2 separate regions of the Homo sapiens genome follow, and region 1 is linked to region 2. The links come from fine-mapping of genetic effects on gene expression. A gene starts in region 2. The other region holds a variant in brackets. All regions are shown on one strand. Distances are between the middles of the regions.

What was found.
Region 1: its variant is fine-mapped to the expression of AKT1 in thyroid (GTEx, PIP above 0.99).

The regions. Positions count from the first base shown.
Region 1 is chr14:104,770,007-104,778,284 of GRCh38, forward strand. AKT1 (AKT serine/threonine kinase 1) reads right to left here. Exons shown (of 15, transcript NM_001382430.1): 5 at 6,653-6,764; 6 at 5,646-5,793; 7 at 5,070-5,201; 8 at 4,932-4,997; 9 at 3,906-3,974; 10 at 3,449-3,574; 11 at 3,245-3,373; 12 at 2,872-3,086; 13 at 2,359-2,446; 14 at 739-841; 15 at 1-414. The coding sequence ends at 335. Among named protein-coding and RNA genes, the nearest start is that of SIVA1, 21 kb to the left of the region's middle. The variant C/G (reference allele first, on the strand shown) is at 4,542.
Region 2 is chr14:104,791,573-104,799,870 of GRCh38, forward strand. It overlaps AKT1 (AKT serine/threonine kinase 1), which reads right to left and starts at 4,176. Exons shown (of 15, transcript NM_001382430.1): 1 at 3,912-4,176; 2 at 1,555-1,732; 3 at 1,026-1,150. The coding sequence starts at 1,071. RefSeq lists enhancers at 78-719, 1,360-2,001, 2,002-2,641, 2,642-3,283, 5,325-6,097 and 1 more and silencers at 3,548-3,867, 3,898-3,947, 4,128-4,487.

The sequences.
Region 1 (8,278 bases), 22 kb before region 2:
CAGGACCTGCCCGGCCCCCCAATGCCACATTGCGCATAGCTGCAGAAGTCCTTAACATTTCCCTACGTGAATCGGATTGTTCTGAGGGCTGAGGCCACACCCGGAGAACAAACTGGATGAAATAAATTAAAACCCGCAGGATAGTTTTCTTCCCTACCCCGCTGCGGGGGAGGGTGCTGCCCACAGCACAAAAACGTCTTTCCATCTGGGCTCGAGAGGACAGCGTGGCTTCTCTCAAATGCACCCGAGAAATAAAAACCATTAAATACAGATCATGGCACGAGGCCGCCTCTCCATCCCTCCAAGCTATCGTCCAGCGCAGTCCACCGCCGCCTCAGGCCGTGCCGCTGGCCGAGTAGGAGAACTGGGGGAAGTGGGGCCTGCGCTCGCTGTCCACACACTCCATGCTGTCATCTGTGGGTGTAGACAGCTCAGACCCCGGTGCCCCACCTCCCTGCCACCTCCACCCACCCACAGCTCCAGTAGGAAGCCAACCTCTTAAAGCACGGCCAGCACGCTGCCATACTGCCAGGAAACTGAGACAGGGCCCCACAGATTGACACAGGGACCTGGGCCCTCAGAGCACTGCCTCCCACCCTGATCATTGGCACTCTCCAAAAGGAACCTTTTTAAATATTTAGATTTTAAAACATCTGAAGCCAAAAAAGCTGAACACTGCAGGCCTCTCTGAGTGTGGAGAGAAAAGGGAGTGGGCGGGGGCAGGCAGTGGCCCCTCACCTTGGTCAGGTGGTGTGATGGTGATCATCTGGGCCGTGAACTCCTCATCAAAATACCTGGTGTCAGTCTCCGACGTGACCTGGGGCTTGAAGGGTGGGCTGAGCTGCAGAGGTGGGCAGACGGGACAGTCATGAGCTTCGCTCCCCACTCCCAGCACACCCTCAAGTGTGCTCAAGACCTTCAAAGCACCTGGATCTCCAAGGGGTCTCCAGGCAGGACTGATGTCAGAGAGCAGCAAGCCACCAGCCCCCCACAGAGGCAGCTCTGGGAGGGAGGGACATGAGGGGTGCAGGAGCACGGAGACAACCCTCAACAGCTGAGACGCAAAGCTGCCCTCACAGCAGCCCCAGCAGGCGACAGGAGGTAGTGCAGCCCAGCTCTGAGAGACCCTCCCTGCTACCAGGAGGTGATAACTTTATTTTTCCTTTTTCTTTCTTGTTTTCTTATTTTTCTTATTGGTCTTCTTGTAAATTGGGAAAGAGGGAGACTGTGGAACAAGGTGCACAGGATGAGCCCACCCTGCCTCCATGGCTCAGGGACTACAGGACCACAGCCTGCTGGCATCTGGCTGCAGACAGGACTCTCAATGACCCAGGATGAAGGGTGACTATAAGGTGATGTGCACACGTGAGGAGCTGCCAGAGAGCCCCTCAGGTCCCACAGTCAAGGACCCCCTCAAGCACTGCCCCACCCCAGAGTCTGGGCTGGGCACCAGCATTGTCCATTGTCAATTAGCAAGGTCTCTGGTCAAGGCTGGGCAGAGGTTGAGCACTGCCCAGGCCCCCCATACCCTTGGAGGGCAGGGCAGGAGGGTGGCAGGCCTCAAGGCAGGAACGGGGACCAGGACCAGGGCACCCTGTGTTAATGGGAGAACAGGTGCCCAGCTGGGTCCCAGGGCTGCCCAGCCCGACCAGCTGCACACAGCCTAGGACAGGCATTCAGGGGAGGGGCAGGCTGGGAACGGGGCAGAAGCACACCTGGTGACAGGGCACCCAGCATCTCAGAGTGCAGGCTTCCGAACCCAGCTGGCAGACCCCATCAGCTGGGGTGATGGCCAGGGCTCCTAGGGTCCCTGAAAGATGAGCACCCAGGATGGCGACTCATGCAGAAAGAGCTGCCTCCCTCCAGGGCGGACTCCCCCATGTGCCAGAAAAGTAGGTGCTGTCCCTGTCCCTGCACAGCCAGAAATAGGGCTGGGCTCTCCTTGCGGCAGAAGGGATTGAGGTCAAACAGGAGGAACTCGTGGAGGCCAAGGGGCAGCACCCCTGGTCCACCACCAGCCAGCCTTCACTGCACAGCGTCAGGGAAGGGAACCCCAAGGCTGGCACTCAGAGTGTGACACACCTCCGAGGGGAGGAGGAAACTCAGAGTGTGACACACCTCCGAGGGGAGGAGGAAATGAGGACCAGGCCAGTTTCCTGGTGGAACCCGGCAGTGCCAGAGCCTCTGAGCACCAGGCGCTGAGGTTGGTGCAGCAAGGCCCTCCTTGTACCAGGACTGCAGCAGGCTCCTGAGGTGAGGGCGAGTGTGTGGGAAATCTGGCGAGCGTGCCACGTGCATGCGTGAGTGTGGATATGTGGGGAGCATGCGTGCGCGTGAATATGCGGGGAGCAGCCGCACCTTCTTCTCGTACACGTGCTGCCACACGATACCGGCAAAGAAGCGATGCTGCATGATCTCCTTGGCGTCCTCGGAGCCCCCGCCAAGCCTGCAGGCAGGAAACAAGGCCACAGTGTCGGTACCGCCACCTGCCCAGGCCCTGGGTTCAGGCCCCTTCCTCCTGTGATGTAGGGCCCGCCAGACAGGACGTTCCGGGGCCAGGGAGGGGAGCCGGTGGTGCAGCGTCCCTGAGCAGCTGTGGGTAGCAAAGCACCACAGAGCTCACGGCAGGGCAGGGGCTTCCTGAGTGGGTGGGTGCAGGCTGCAGGGTTGGGGACAGAGGCCCAACTGACCCCGGCCTGCCCGCCACTCTGCTTGGGCCTGAGGCTTTGGAGATCAGCCCTGGCCAAGGACATCAAGCTTTGGCTATCAGTGTAGTCTGGGAGGTGCCAGGACCGCCTGGCGCAGGGGCAGGTGCAGCCTGGGGATGAGGGGATGGAGGTGTAGCCTGTAGCTGGGATGGGCGGCCCTCACCTCTGCTTGGGGTCCTTCTTGAGCAGCCCTGAAAGCAAGGACTTGGCCTCGGGACCAAGCGTGCGCGGGAAGCGGATCTCCTCCATGAGGATGAGCTCAAAAAGCTTCTCATGGTCCTGGTTGTAGAAGGGCAGGCGACCGCACATCATCTCGTACATGACCACGCCCAGCCCCCACCAGTCCACTGCACGGCCGTAGTCATTGTCCTCCAGCACCTGCACGGGTGGCAGATGGGCAGGACTCGGCATCAAGGGGTGTCCGGGACACTGCCGGGGGAGGTGTGACGTGCTTGGGGCACAGAGAGGACACAGCATTGCGTGTGCTCAGGACGTGGGGACGCAGCAACGCGTATGCACGCAGGTGGGGCGCACACCTCGGGGGCCAGGTACTCAGGTGTGCCGCAAAAGGTCTTCATGGTGGCACCGTCCTTGATCCCCTCCTTGCACAGCCCGAAGTCTGTGATCTTAATGTGCCCGTCCTTGTCCAGCATGAGGTTCTCCAGCTAGGGGAAAGGTGGCCTCAGGTCAGTGCCGCCAGGCCCCCAGGGCCCTGCCCCCCTGCCTGCCCGCCAGCGCACCTTGAGGTCCCGGTACACCACGTTCTTCTCCGAGTGCAGGTAGTCCAGGGCTGACACAATCTCAGCGCCATAGAAGCGGGCCCGGTCCTCGGAGAACACACGCTCCCGGGACAGGTGGAAGAACAGCTGCGGGAGGCGCAACCTGAGGCACAGCCGTGGCTCGGGCCTCTGCCCCCATGGCCTGCAGGGCTGGGGTTTCTCAGACCGGGTCTCGGCATTGCACAGGGAAGGGACCAGCCACCAGAGGGCACGGGGGCCTGGAAAGTCTCAGAAGCCCTAACTCAGCAGGAACAAGTCACCCCACAGCAGGCAGCTGCCTGGGCAGGCATCACACCACCCACCCAGCAGGGAGCACCGTCTGGTGCCATGGAGAGTAGCCGAGGCTCCGGGAAGGACCGGCCCCACCATGGGCGGCCCACAGGCCGCGAAGTCCATCCCCCGCAGCCCCAGCCCCTACCTCGCCCCCGTTGGCGTACTCCATGACAAAGCAGAGGCGGTCGTGGGTCTGGAAAGAGTACTTCAGGGCCTGCAAGGAAGGGGAGCTGGAACTGCGGCCCCACAGGCAGGACGGCAGCCCCGCACCACGCTGCCCGACACCACGCTGCTTGATACCACGTCGCCTGATACCACACCGCCCGTAGCCCCACACCACACTGCCCGACACCACGCTGCCTGATACCACACCGCCCGATACCACACTGCCCCACACCACACACCCCATCACACTGCCCCACACCATACACCCCCACATCACACTGCCCCCATGCCACGCTGCCCCACACCACACTGCCCCACACCACACTGCCTCATGCCACGCCACCATCAGGCTGGGCCCCGGCAGCCCCTGAGGTGCCAAGGAGTGTTTGAAAGGTGAGCAAGGTGGCCTGGGCTCAGGTCCTCCAGGGTGAGTTGGGACCTCAGCAGGGGACAGTGCTCCCAGCACCAGGGCCTTCGCAAAGGGAGGACACACCCTCCCAGGCGAGACCCACCCTCCCGCCTTCCACCACAGGCGACTGTGCTTTTAAAGCAAAGGCCCCATCTGCAGGAGAATCGTCCCCAAACACAGTGACCTGGAACTAACCAAGTGGCTGGA[C/G]CCTGGCCCCCTTCACAGTAAATACCTCCTGGGCCAAGTCCCCAGAACAGGTTCTGCAGGACAGAGCCCGGGCCTCAACAAAAGCCTGGCAGGCAGGGCTGCAGGGCATGGGGAGCTGGGGCCTCCTGGAGCCTCGGCAGAGTGCAAGGAAGACCAGGGCCACCTGCCCCACCCACCTGCCCGCACACGGGAGCAGCGAGCACAGCCCCTAGCCCACACTGGGCACCTCCACAGCCTGACCCTCCAGGGCAGGCCTGTCTCACCAGCGGCGGAGTCCACGGTGTGTAAAGCCCTCACGTGCCCAAGAAGACAGGACATCGTCCCCTAGAGACAGCCCCAGGAGTCGCTACCTGGCCCCAGCCCTTCAGCCCCATCTGGGCTCCCACTCACTGTGAGGAAGGGGTGCCTGGAGTTCTGCAGGACGCGGTTCTCGGTGAGTGTGTGGGCCACCTCGTCCTGTAAAGCAGGGCTGGGTGAGCTGCCACCCCGCACCCTCATCTCCACCCTGCCCCACCGCCCCGGCCCCACCTTGGCCACGATGACTTCCTTCTTGAGGATCTTCATGGCGTAGTAGCGGCCTGTGGCCTTCTCCTTCACCAGGATCACCTTGCCGAAAGTGCCCTTGCCCAGCAGCTTCAGGTACTCAAACTCGTTCATGGTCTATGGGCAGGCACCAGGGTCAGCAAGCGGCGCTGCCAACAGTGCCCAGCTGGTCGGCATGCGTGGGGTGGCATGAGGGGCCCCAGAGTCGGAGGCAGAGCCAGGAGAGGCGTCCACTTCACACCTGGTGGCCTACTGGGCTCAGCGGGGAGTCCAGGCTTACAGGGAACACATGGCTGCGGCCCCAGCTCAGAGCATGGGGTTCAGGGAAGGGTGGGGTAACATTGCCCAAGCCTGGCAGGGCTCAGCAACCCCAGTTTTCCTCTGACATGGGGAAGAGGACCCACCTGGGAAGCAGCTGCGCCCTACATGGAAAACCGGCCTAGGTGGAGATGCCGTGGAGTGCTGAGTGTCTCCTGGGCCGAGCTGGGACCCCATGACCCACCCAGCCCTCCACAGTCCAAGGCAGCCCCAGGCACAGGCAGAAGTGGGGACAGGCCTCACCACGCGGTGCTTGGGCTTGGCCAGGGACACCTCCATCTCTTCAGCCCCTGAGTTGTCACTGGGTGAGCCCGACCGGAAGTCCATCTCCTCCTCCTCCTGCTTCTTGAGGCCGTCAGCCACAGTCTGGATGGCGGTTGTCCACTCCTCCCTGCAGGAGGTCAGGTGAGGCTGCAGGCCTGTACCAGATCAGGAGCTCCACCCCACGTCTTTCACCCACCCGCCAGCCTCACAAGCGTGGTTCCACAGCTGTCGGGGTTCCCAGAGACAGCCCTGAGGAGGCCACCACTTGACCTGGTCTGGCCACATACACTCAGGGTCACGAAGCCCTCTTGGACGTGGGGGACACCCAGGCTTAGCCCCCCAGCAGGACTCTGTCCCCACAACCGGACTCCAACCCCCAGCAGGACTCCGCCCCCCAGCAGGACTCCGCCCCCCCCAAGCAGGACTCCGCCTCCCAAGCAGGACTCCGCCCCCCAAGGAGGACTGGCCCTCTCCACCGGGTTTTTCTTTTTTTGAGACGGAGTCTTGCTCTATCGCCCTGGCTGGAGTGCAGTGGTAAAATCTCGGCTCCTGCAGCCTCTGCCTCTCGGGTTCAAGCGATTCTTGTGCCTCAGCCTCCCAAGTAGCCGGGATTACAGGTGTGCACCACCACACCCAGCTAAGTTTTATATTTTTAGTAGAGACGGGGGTTTCACCATGTTGGCAGGCTAGTCTCAAACTCCTGGTCTCAAGTGATCTGCGCACCTCGGCCTCCCAAAGTGCCGAGATTATAGACGTGAGCCACTGCACCCGGTCCCTAGCCAGTTTTTATCTCCAGCCTCAGTTTCCCCACCCAAACCCCACAGGCAGGACTGGGCCAGTTTCCAAACTGGGCTCTGAGGAGGGCCTGGGAGCACTGGGGAGTGAGGATGGCTACAGGCAGAGGTGCCAGCACCCCGCCATCCCCGTGTCCCTCCTAAGCGCTGGGGCTGCCCAAGTGCCTGGCCTGGCCGCCACAGCCCACGTACCGCTCCTCAGGAGTCTCCACATGGAAGGTGCGTTCGATGACAGTGGTCCACTGCAGGCAGCGGATGATGAAGGTGTTGGGCCGGGGCCGCTCCGTCTTCATCAGCTGGCACTCTGCGGGCAGGCAGAGCCTCTGTCTGCGTGCATCCCCCTGCCCCTCCCAGGGCCCTCACCACAGCCCCCGCTGCACCAGCCAGCTCCCCTTGCATACCACCCACCAGGTCCTGGGAAGCCCCATCTCTTCCTCTCTCCAAGCCTCAGTTTCTCGCCTCACAGAGTGGGGCTAGGACCCCTGTTCCAGCTCAGACACTCTACTCCAGGCTGAGGCAGCCACACAGGGCATCTGGCCCGGCGTCAGGTCAAACCCCCACCATCGTCCACTCCTACAGTCCTTCCTTCAGTCTCTGAGCCCCGCCGTGCGCCAGGCCTCAGAGGATGAGGGGTATGGAGATCCCACAGAGGGGCTGGCATGAGGGGGGCACCCCAGAAACCTGCTTGTCCCACCTAGTGTAGAAATGTCCTGCTTTTTTCCCAACCTCACCCTGAGTACCTGGGAAATACAGCCACCTGGAGCACACCCACACCTGGGGCACACCCACACCTGGGGCACAGGCACACCTGGGGCACAGCCACACCTGGGGCACAGGCACACCTGGGGCACAGCCACACCTGGGGCACACATACATCTGGGGCACACACACACTGGAGGCAAAGCCACACCTGGGGCACACGCACACCTGAGGCACACACCTGGGGCACACGCACACCTGGGACACAGCCACACTGGAATACACAGACATCTAGAACACATCTAGACACCTAGCCACATCTGGGGCACACGAACACCTGGGGCACACGCACACCTGGGGCACAGCCACACCTGGGGCACAAGCACACCTGGGGAACACATACCTGGGGCACAGCCACACCTACAGCACGTACACCCTGAGGGCTGTGGGAACGTGCGGGGCCCTGAGAGGTGTGAGTGAGTGGAGTGTGTAGCCGCTGGGGCTCCGTGGCAGGCTCTGGCCCAGCCTGTGCAAAGCAGGAGGAGGCTGAGGGGCCAGTGGGGGGCCTCTGACATTCCAGCATCGAGGCCCTGGCAACCACAAGGGGGCCTGGCCAGGCAGCAAGGAAGCTGTCTTCCAGGCCTGGGGGCCAGGAGGGGGCTCGGGACCAGCCTGGTGGGGAGGGTGGCCTGTGTCAACACAGGCCAGAGAAGTGGAAACCGGTGTGAAGCCCCGGCACACCCACCTCCCACTCGCTCCTGGATGGTCCGATCTGCCCCAGTATGCAATCCCCAGGGCCAGAGTCTCGAGCCCACTGCCCCGGAACCGTTCCCCGGAGAAAAGCCCCGGACAGAGGCCCAGCACAGCCCCTGGCCCCTGCCCAGCTCTGCTCCTTGGCCAGGCGCTCCAGGCCACTCACCTATGGCCTAATCTGAAGGCCCCAGCCTTGCCAGCTGCTCAGGCAACACCTCCAGCTGGTACCCACCCGTGTGCCTCTCCAGAGAGCTCCCCACCTCGTTCCTTCCCAATGCCTCGGCCTGGCGAGCACACCCACAGCACCCACCCCCAGCAAGGCCCTGTCCCAGGTGCCACCAGGCACGCTGCTGGCACCCAGCCTCT
Region 2 (8,298 bases):
CCCAGGCTCCTGTGGCTCCTTAGGCCTGCTCTTCTGTGAGCTCCTATACATCCCACAATGCCCCATCTTGTGACACCTACTTTTGCCACACCTCCCTGTCTGCTCCAGCTGTGTTTGGGGTCTCCCCACTACCAGATGTGAAACCCATCTGCTAGAGGGTGTACGTAAAGCCGGGGGGCTGCTGGCATGAGATCACTAGAACTTAGGAGGGAACAAGTCTGGAAAAAGAAGTCAGGAGAGGGCGGACCGATTCCGCCTGGGGCAGAAGAGAGTGACTTGGCCAGAGGACCTGGACCTGAACAGGAAGCCCACCCTAGCAGGACAGAGGAGCAAAACAGCCACCCAGACTCCACCGCACCCCGCTGAGCAACGGAGGGTGGGTGAGGCAGAAGGGCCTGCACAGGGTTGGAAGGGGTGGGGCTATGTCCCCAGCTCCCATCCCACCCAGCTGCTGGCCAGGCCCCTCGGGCAGCACCTCCTCCATAGGCTGCAAGGCCAAATGAGTGAGGAGGGGGACACAGGGGCTGGGGGACTTGGCTCAGCCAGCTCTGCAGCTCCAAGGCAAACATGCCCTGTGCCCAGGCGGTACGGATTCCCCCCACCCCCAAAGCTCAGGCCTGAAGCAGGCACCAGGCCAAGCCAAGCAGCCCTGCCCTGCCCTCAGGAGCCCTTGGGCAGTGCCCTGGGCCGCCAGCGTGCCAGACCCTGGAACAGCCCAGTGTCCTCGCTGCCTTCCAGGAAAGCCAGGAGAGAGGCTGGCAGCAGCTCCCCCGCCTGCCAGGGCCCACACCAGGAAGCCACTCAGATGGCCGGCCCTGCACAGGGCCTCATCCTCCTGGCCTCCCCGAGGCCGTGCCCTCCATGCCATGGGAAGACATGGGGCCCAGGACACTCACCCTAGGCCAGCCCAGGAGCCCCAGGGGAGGCAGCCCCTCCCACCCAGCAGGGCACAGGCACTCACAGACCCTGGGGCTACTACCCCCATCTCTCCCTCCCCAGGCCCAGCCCTGGCAGCGGGTACTAACCTCGTTTGTGCAGCCAACCCTCCTTCACAATAGCCACGTCGCTCATGGTGCCCGAGGCTCCCGCGACGCTCACGCGCTCCTCTCAGGCTGGCGCTCCCCGAGCCCAGCTGGCCTGGCCACAGCCTCTGGGAGAAGCAAAGGAAGCTGAATGTGAGGCCACGCCTGGCTAAGGGCAGCTCCTCGCCCTGGGTGAGCCAGAGACCCACTGCACGTGCCTGGGGGCTCCACCCGCACCTGCCTTCCCAGGTGGGCTGCCATCCCTCTAAGCTCTCTGACCCCCATCTGCCCGCCTGCCTTCCCTCTCCCCAAAACACTCAGGGCTGCCAAGTGTCAAATCCATGTAATTGAACACAGTTCCCTGGACCTGGGCCTCTCCTTATTCTAGGCTTAGAGCCTCCAGCCCCTGCCACCACCACCCGCAACAGCCAGGCCCTGAGAGCTGCTGCCTTGCTCACCTCCCCATTCCCACCTCCCCCAGCCGTTGGACAAATCACCCCCATCCCCAAAAGGCCTTCCCAGCCTCCCTAACCTGATGCACCAGCTGACAGGCTGCCTCCTCCAGGCAGCCCCTTTGACTTCTTTGACCCAGGCTGGCTCGGCCTTCCCTAAGCCCCTGGTGACAGATGGCCCCGTTTGCTCTCCCTGTCCATGGTGTTCCTACCCATGGATCCTGGGACAGGGCACAGGGCTCCTCCCTGCTCCCCAGACTAGGAAAGCAAAGAAATTCAAACATGAGGAAGACAGGACCAGGATGCAGGCCACTGGCGCAAACGGGAGTCCAGAGCCCTCCAGCGCAAGCCCAAAAACCTCCTGGGAGAAACCCCAGGCCCCTCCTAAACCACAGCGCCCCTGCCGGTCTGAATCTGGTTCATTCATTTGGCCAACATGTACCGGGCGTCTCAGGTTTTGCCAGGCCCAGTGCTGGGCGCTGGAGACAAAGAGAGGTTCAGACAAGTCCGTCAGTGAGGAGCACCCAGTCCAGGGTGGTTACAGACCCATAATTACAGCAGTCGGGAGGCAGCAAGTAAGTGGGGGAGCACTGGACAGGCCCCCGCCCTGCAGCGGCCCACCAGCCAACCCTCACCTGAGCACACTTTATCCATTGATCCTGCATGGCTTCCTCATTTCCCCTCTGATGGATGAACTCCTAGGCATCCCTCAAAACCCAGTTCCCACATCACCAACTACAGGCATCCCCAGAAAGAGCACTTCGCATGCTCTTCCTGTGAGCAGTCCTCTGCTACCCTTCCAGATGGGCCTTCCTGAGGGGAGGAGGGTCCTCTCTGGGACCTCCAGGCCAGGCAGAGACCCCTGACGACCTCTGTGGAATGGATCCCAACATGGGTCTTTCCACAGCCAGCTTAGACGCTCTCCCCCCAGGCCACCTTTCTGGCCTCCCGAGGCAAGGGCTGGACACCCACAAAGGGTTGCTTTGCACTGATTGTCTTAAGCTACACTTAGAATGGCAGGAAGGCCCACTGCCTTGTGTCTAATGCCAGGACAGGGAAGACCACACCTTACCCAAAGAGGGAAATGCCCCAAGTACTTAGCAGGATGGAAAGCAGGCCAGACTCGAGGAAGGCACCGCAGGACTCCGAGGGCAGGGCTCCGAGCCGCGCACGCCTCAGGCACAGGGGGCTCTGACGACACTGAGTGGGCGTGGCCTGGAGGCAGAGGGCTGGACTCAAAGACCTCTGGATGTCCCCCCACCCCCACACGGGCCTGAGCCCCTCCAAGGCCTGCTGCTGACAGAGTCAGACAGCTGTCCAGAGCCATGTGTAAAAATACATCTGTGCTCACACAGGGTGGTGTACGTCTGCACAGAAACGTATACACCAGGCCAGCACAGGGCTGCCTGTGGGGGCGGAGGGACCCCGACTTCCCACAGCCTCCGTACCTGCCGCCTGCCTTTACCATAAGCACATATTCTTGCTACTATTATTAAGTCACAACTTAAAAAAAAATACTCTGTTTTCGAAAGGGCTCCTCCATCTGCCTCCAGAACCCTGGTGTATGAGAAGTCTACACAGCTCCCGGGAGAGGCAACCGGACCCCCACCAACGGACTCCGTCCGCCCTTCGCTCGGATGAGGGACTCAAAGCAGTCAAGAAGTGGCCACCTGGAGCAAGGCCGAGAGACCCAGGAGTGAATGTGGGGCGGCCTCTGGCTGCAGAGCAGGGGCCCAAGCTCACCCGCTGACCAAGGCAGCACTCAGAGGCCGTCCCGACAGGACCAAGCTCGCTAGCGCCCCAGGATACTCAATCTAAGGGGCAAGCCCCAGCTGCCCTCCAAGCCTTGGCCTCTGGGATGGGCGGGCAGGACCTCCAGGGCCCACCCAAGACAGGAAGCAGTTCCGGGGCCCAGGAGGGTCACAGTCCTTTGTGGCTAGCCTGGGTACCCCGCCACCACGTACAACTTTTCGTCCGTGGGAAACGAAGTCTCCTTCCGGGGCCCTCCCACAAACTTGAAGGCCGGCCGCGGCGAGTCTTTCTCCAACCCCGGGGCACCTCCGCCGGCTGCCTCGCTGGCCCAGCGCCCGGGGAGCCCCACGGCCCGCAGGGGCACCCCGAGCCCCAGCTCCAGGCCCGGCGGCGTCCCTTCTCTCGGGTCCCGGCCTCGCCCGGCGGAGCGGCCTCCCCAAGGTCATGAGGGAGGCTGGGGCCGGCAGCCTGCACCCCCGGCGCCCGGCGTGGGGCCGCCCTCCCTTGGCCGGGCCCGCGCGCCCCGCGCCCTCCCCGCCCAGGCCCGCTCGGCCACTTCCTGCTCCCGCTCCTCCATTCTGGCGGCGCCGCGGCTCGCGCCCCGGCCCGACCGGCCGCGAACAAAGCGGCCCGGCCCGCGGGGAGGAAATCCAGGCCCGGGCGGCCACGGCGGGCGGGGACTCACCGGGCCGCCGCGTCCGGGCGCGAGCGCGGGCCTAGCCGGGCCGCGGCCTCCGGCGCCCGCCGCTCCGCATCCCCGCGGGCCGGCGCTGGGCGGGGCCGGGCTGGAGGCCGCGGCGGGCGGGGGCGCTGCTCGGGGCCGGGCCTCGCGTGCCGCCGCCGCTCGGTGCCCGGTGCCCAGCGCTCGGTGCTCGGCCGCCTGCTCCCGTCTTCGGGCCGCGCTGCGTGCGCTGGGCCAGCCGCCTGCCGCGCTCGGTCCTGCCGCCGCCGCCGGCCCGCCCTCTCCCCGCCCCGCGCCCGCCCCGCGCCCGGAGCCGCCCGCCCACATCCGCCTCCGCCGCCCGGGGCGTCCCCACCGCGCGGCCGGCGGCGAGGGCGGAGCGCGCTCGGGGAGCGCGCGGCCGGGCTGAGGGGCAGCTCCCGACGACCTGGGGCCTGGGCTGGGCCGCTAACGGAGCCCGGCCACCAGCCAGCCCGTCCCGGGGCCACGCCCTCTCTGGCCTCAGTTTCCCCGTCTGTAAAGTGACCCGGCGCTTCTGGGCTCGCTCTGCCGTGACCCTAGCAGAAGGGGCCCGAGACAGGTCAGGGACGAATCCCGGACTTCTGCCTCCGCGCGCGGGGCGGGGGTGGCTTAGGTTGACTTTCAGGCTGCCCCACTCTGGGGGGCGTGGAGGGGGCGGCCAAGAGTGACCTAAAAGGCCCAATCCCAAGACCTTGTGCCTCTGGGGGAAGTGCGGGAGGATGCCAGGACAGGAGGTCAGTTGGAGGTGGGCCTCCAAGGAGCAGGAAGGCTCCGAGGGGAGTCAACCATTCACCTAGGTACTGGCAGCTACACTCACAAAAGGGGGACTTTGCTGGGGAGTGGGAGAAGAGGGGCACACCTTGCCTGGCTCCCACCTTGAGCTGGGAGCAGACACCAGACAGAGGAGGAGCGGTGTCTAGGGTGGGCTGTGACAGCTGACAGCCCAGAGCCCTCCCTGCTGGGTGGACTTGGTCAGCCCGGACACCCAGTCCGAAGTCCACTGGGAGGCAGATGGCCCGGGTATGGAATGAGTAAGTGGGACACAGACCCCTTTCTCCTGGACACTCACAGGAGAGTGCAGGTGACTGCCACCCCGACCCCTTCCTAGCCAGAAGTTCCTCCGACAACTGCCCCTCCCCCATTCCAGAGGCCCACAGTTGATAATAACCCTTTTGTGAAAGACAGACTCTTGTGAGTTACCTTCCTGAGGCTGCTAAGTATTGGGGTTGGGGGAGCATTTTTATTTTCAGCCAGAGTGAGTTCAGCTGGCAGCAGGGGAGGGGGTGGGAGGAGATGCAGACAGAGGCAGCAGGTTCGGCCCAGTGCTCAGGACAGAGTCTGCAGCCAAAACTCGGGCTTCATCCCTGCCTCTTGGGGCTGACCAAGAGAAGGACTCTCTCCCCCTGCATGAGGGCACTCGCTCCTCAGACAGGGGACTCCCCATTCCTGCCTCTCGCCTGAGCACCTCTGCTCCCTCCCAGCTCAGACTTTGTAACCCCAGGAAGGGCCCACCTCCAGGGGGCCAAGTCAGAGGCCCAGTGGTCTGCGCCGCTTGGGTGGGATACCTGACACAAGGGTTGCCCCCAGAGCCTGGGCGTCTGGTGTCTGTCTCTCACCCAGCAAACCTGCACCATGAGCCACCTGGGGCTCCCTCTGGGACTGTCCCACCTGCCCACTGCTCCCCGAGGAAGAGTTCCTGGTATCTGTCCACCATCCTGGGCTCTGCCATGCAAGGATGGAGGAAGGAATTCAGGGAGGAAGCAGAGGGTAAGAGGGCCATGAGACAAGGCCAGCAAGTGGCCGAGGCTTGGGGATGTGGGAGGGAGCAGGGCACCCTCTCATGGAAGAGGCAGTGACATTGCGGGCTGTTCTTGAAGTGGTTGGACCTCTTGCTTATTTTGCACTGGCTGTCTCCAAGGAGGCCTCCCAGTCTTCCCAGCCTGGTGCCCTGGCATCTGCTGGTGCCTGCAACCCACTGTGGGCCCCACACTCCAGTCCTGTCTTCACCTTGGCATGAACTGCCCTCCCCCAAGACGGGGATCTCCCAGTGGGCAGGGCCATCTCCCTCTCCTCCAGCGTCCCAGAGGGAAAGCAGAGTCCTCTCTTCAAGAACACCCCCTCCCACCCCAGACAGAATGGTCAGGAGAGAACCCAGCCCCACGGCTGCTGCTGGGACTGCTGAGGTGCTCTGTGGCCAGATGTTTCCGACAAAAACTGCTGCACCAGGGAAGGGCCCGACGGCTGCCTCCTCCCAGAGCTCAGGGGCCTCCTGCCCTGTCACCTTCTGCAGCTGCTGGCCGGGGGCAGGACTCGAGGGCCCTGGGCTGTGTAGGTCCCAGCAGCAGCTGCAGGGCGGGGCCTCAGGGCAGCTCCCAGGCCAGATGGCCGCCTGAGTCTGCAGAGGTTCTGCCTGAACCACCACCGCCGCGACAGTGGCTGTGTGACGGTGTCCTGTCATTCCTGCACTTGAGACCCAGCCAGTCACAGGGGCTCTGAGGACTACAGGCTGGCCAGGATCCCAGCACCAACTCTGGGCGGTCTCTGCCTGGAACAGCCCCCCTTCCCTGATCGGTGTGGGGCAGGAGGGACTTGAACCCAGACATCCCGACCTGAGAGGGATAAGGAGCTTCTCTCCCACTGTCCCCTCCCCTTCATCTAGCCCATTCCTAGCTGGGCCCTCCTTCCAGGTCCTACCCTAGGCTCCTGAAGGCAGCATCCTGACCCTCCCTGTGTACCACAACCCCCATTAAGTGTCCAGGCTCTCTCTGTCCCGCCAGCCAGGCAGGGCAGGCTAGGGTGCTTGCTCCCAGCCTGCAGTGGGGAGCTGTCAGCCTGTTGCCCAGAGCCCCAGTGTGGCAGGCCACCCCTACTTGCTCTGAAGGTTCAGGGGCTGGGGGTGTGGGCAGGCAGGGCTGGAATGTTGCCACAGAGGAGTCAGGATTAGGGATGGTGGGACCATCGTAATCACTCACAGAAGCAACCGTCACACATTCACTCAACAAACATTTACTGAACACCCACTTGCGTCCTGCCAACTTTTAAGCACCAAGTGACCAAACAGCCCCTTCCCTTTCAGAAGGTGCTGGAATATCCCACAATCACAGGACACCCGGAATGGGCTGGAAAGGAGGGTATGCAGCAGAAGGGACTGCGAGGGAACTTAGCGAAGGTGGGCAGGAATGGCCACCCTGACTAAGGAGTGGACTTTCAGCAGAGACAGGGATGAAGAGAAACCAGTGAAGGGTTCTTTGGGGAAGAACATTCCAGAGCCTGAGAGCTTGCTGAGTGCCAGGCCCTGTCGTTAATGTTCACGAAGACCCCGGGATGCACTCTGACTCCCATTTTGCAGATGAGGATTACTGAGGTTCAAAGAGGTTAAAGGTTTGGTCGTGCTCAAGGTTGGGAGGGGCCGGGGCAGGGCTGTGATCCAGGCAGGGCAGGAAGGGAGCAGTCACATCTGAGTTCACCCTTAACTTACTTGAATTCAGCTATTCCTGCTGGTGGCTGGGGCAAGGCAGATGATTATTTAAATGCGTGGAGAGAGGGGAGTTGACCTTCCTCAGGAAGGGGTCCTTAGGGTGGATGGCCGGCGGCAGTGGGAGCCAGGCCTCTGCCGTCCCTAAGCTAGTCTCAGTGGCTGTAAGTGCAGTGTCATTCCAGGGGTCCAAGCTGCAGTTGCCAGGTTTAGGAAATAAAGATGCAGTCCATCCGGTGAAACAAGGAATGATATTTTAGTATAACAACGAGGCCTTCCTTCCCAGACTTCAGATCCCACTGTGGGCTCCACTCCTCCTGCACACACATACCTGGCCGGGTCCTGTCCTTTGTGATCCAGCCCCTCTTCCAGCACCACCCCCACCCCACTGCTTGGCCTTGACTGGGGTGACTCCTCCACTACATTCTCCATTTCCCGGACTCCAAGGCAGAGAAGAATGAGACCGGCTGAATTCAAATCGTGGTTCAGTGACTTACTGCCTGATACATGGCTCTGGGTACCTTACCTAAACTCTCTCACCAAAAAGGTATGAAAATAAGAGCGTCTAGTTAATGGGACTGTTGTGAAGATGATCCGGTGGTCTAGAGTACCTTCAAACCTGCTCAGTCAAGGGCAGCCCAGGTTGTGCCCCTGGGAAAAGGCTCCATCTGCCTGGGAGGGACCCTAACCCCGCCAAACACACTCTCTACTTCTCTGGCGATTCCCTCTCCCACAACCAGGCGTCCCCCTCACATCTTCTCAATGCTTCTTTGCCCTAGAACACTTTCCCCCACTCCTCCCTACCCCCACTCCCATGCCAGCCCCTGTCCGGAGTCTCCTCCTCTTTGAACACGTTCCTGCCTACCCTGGGCTCTGGAGGGCTTCCGACTGTCT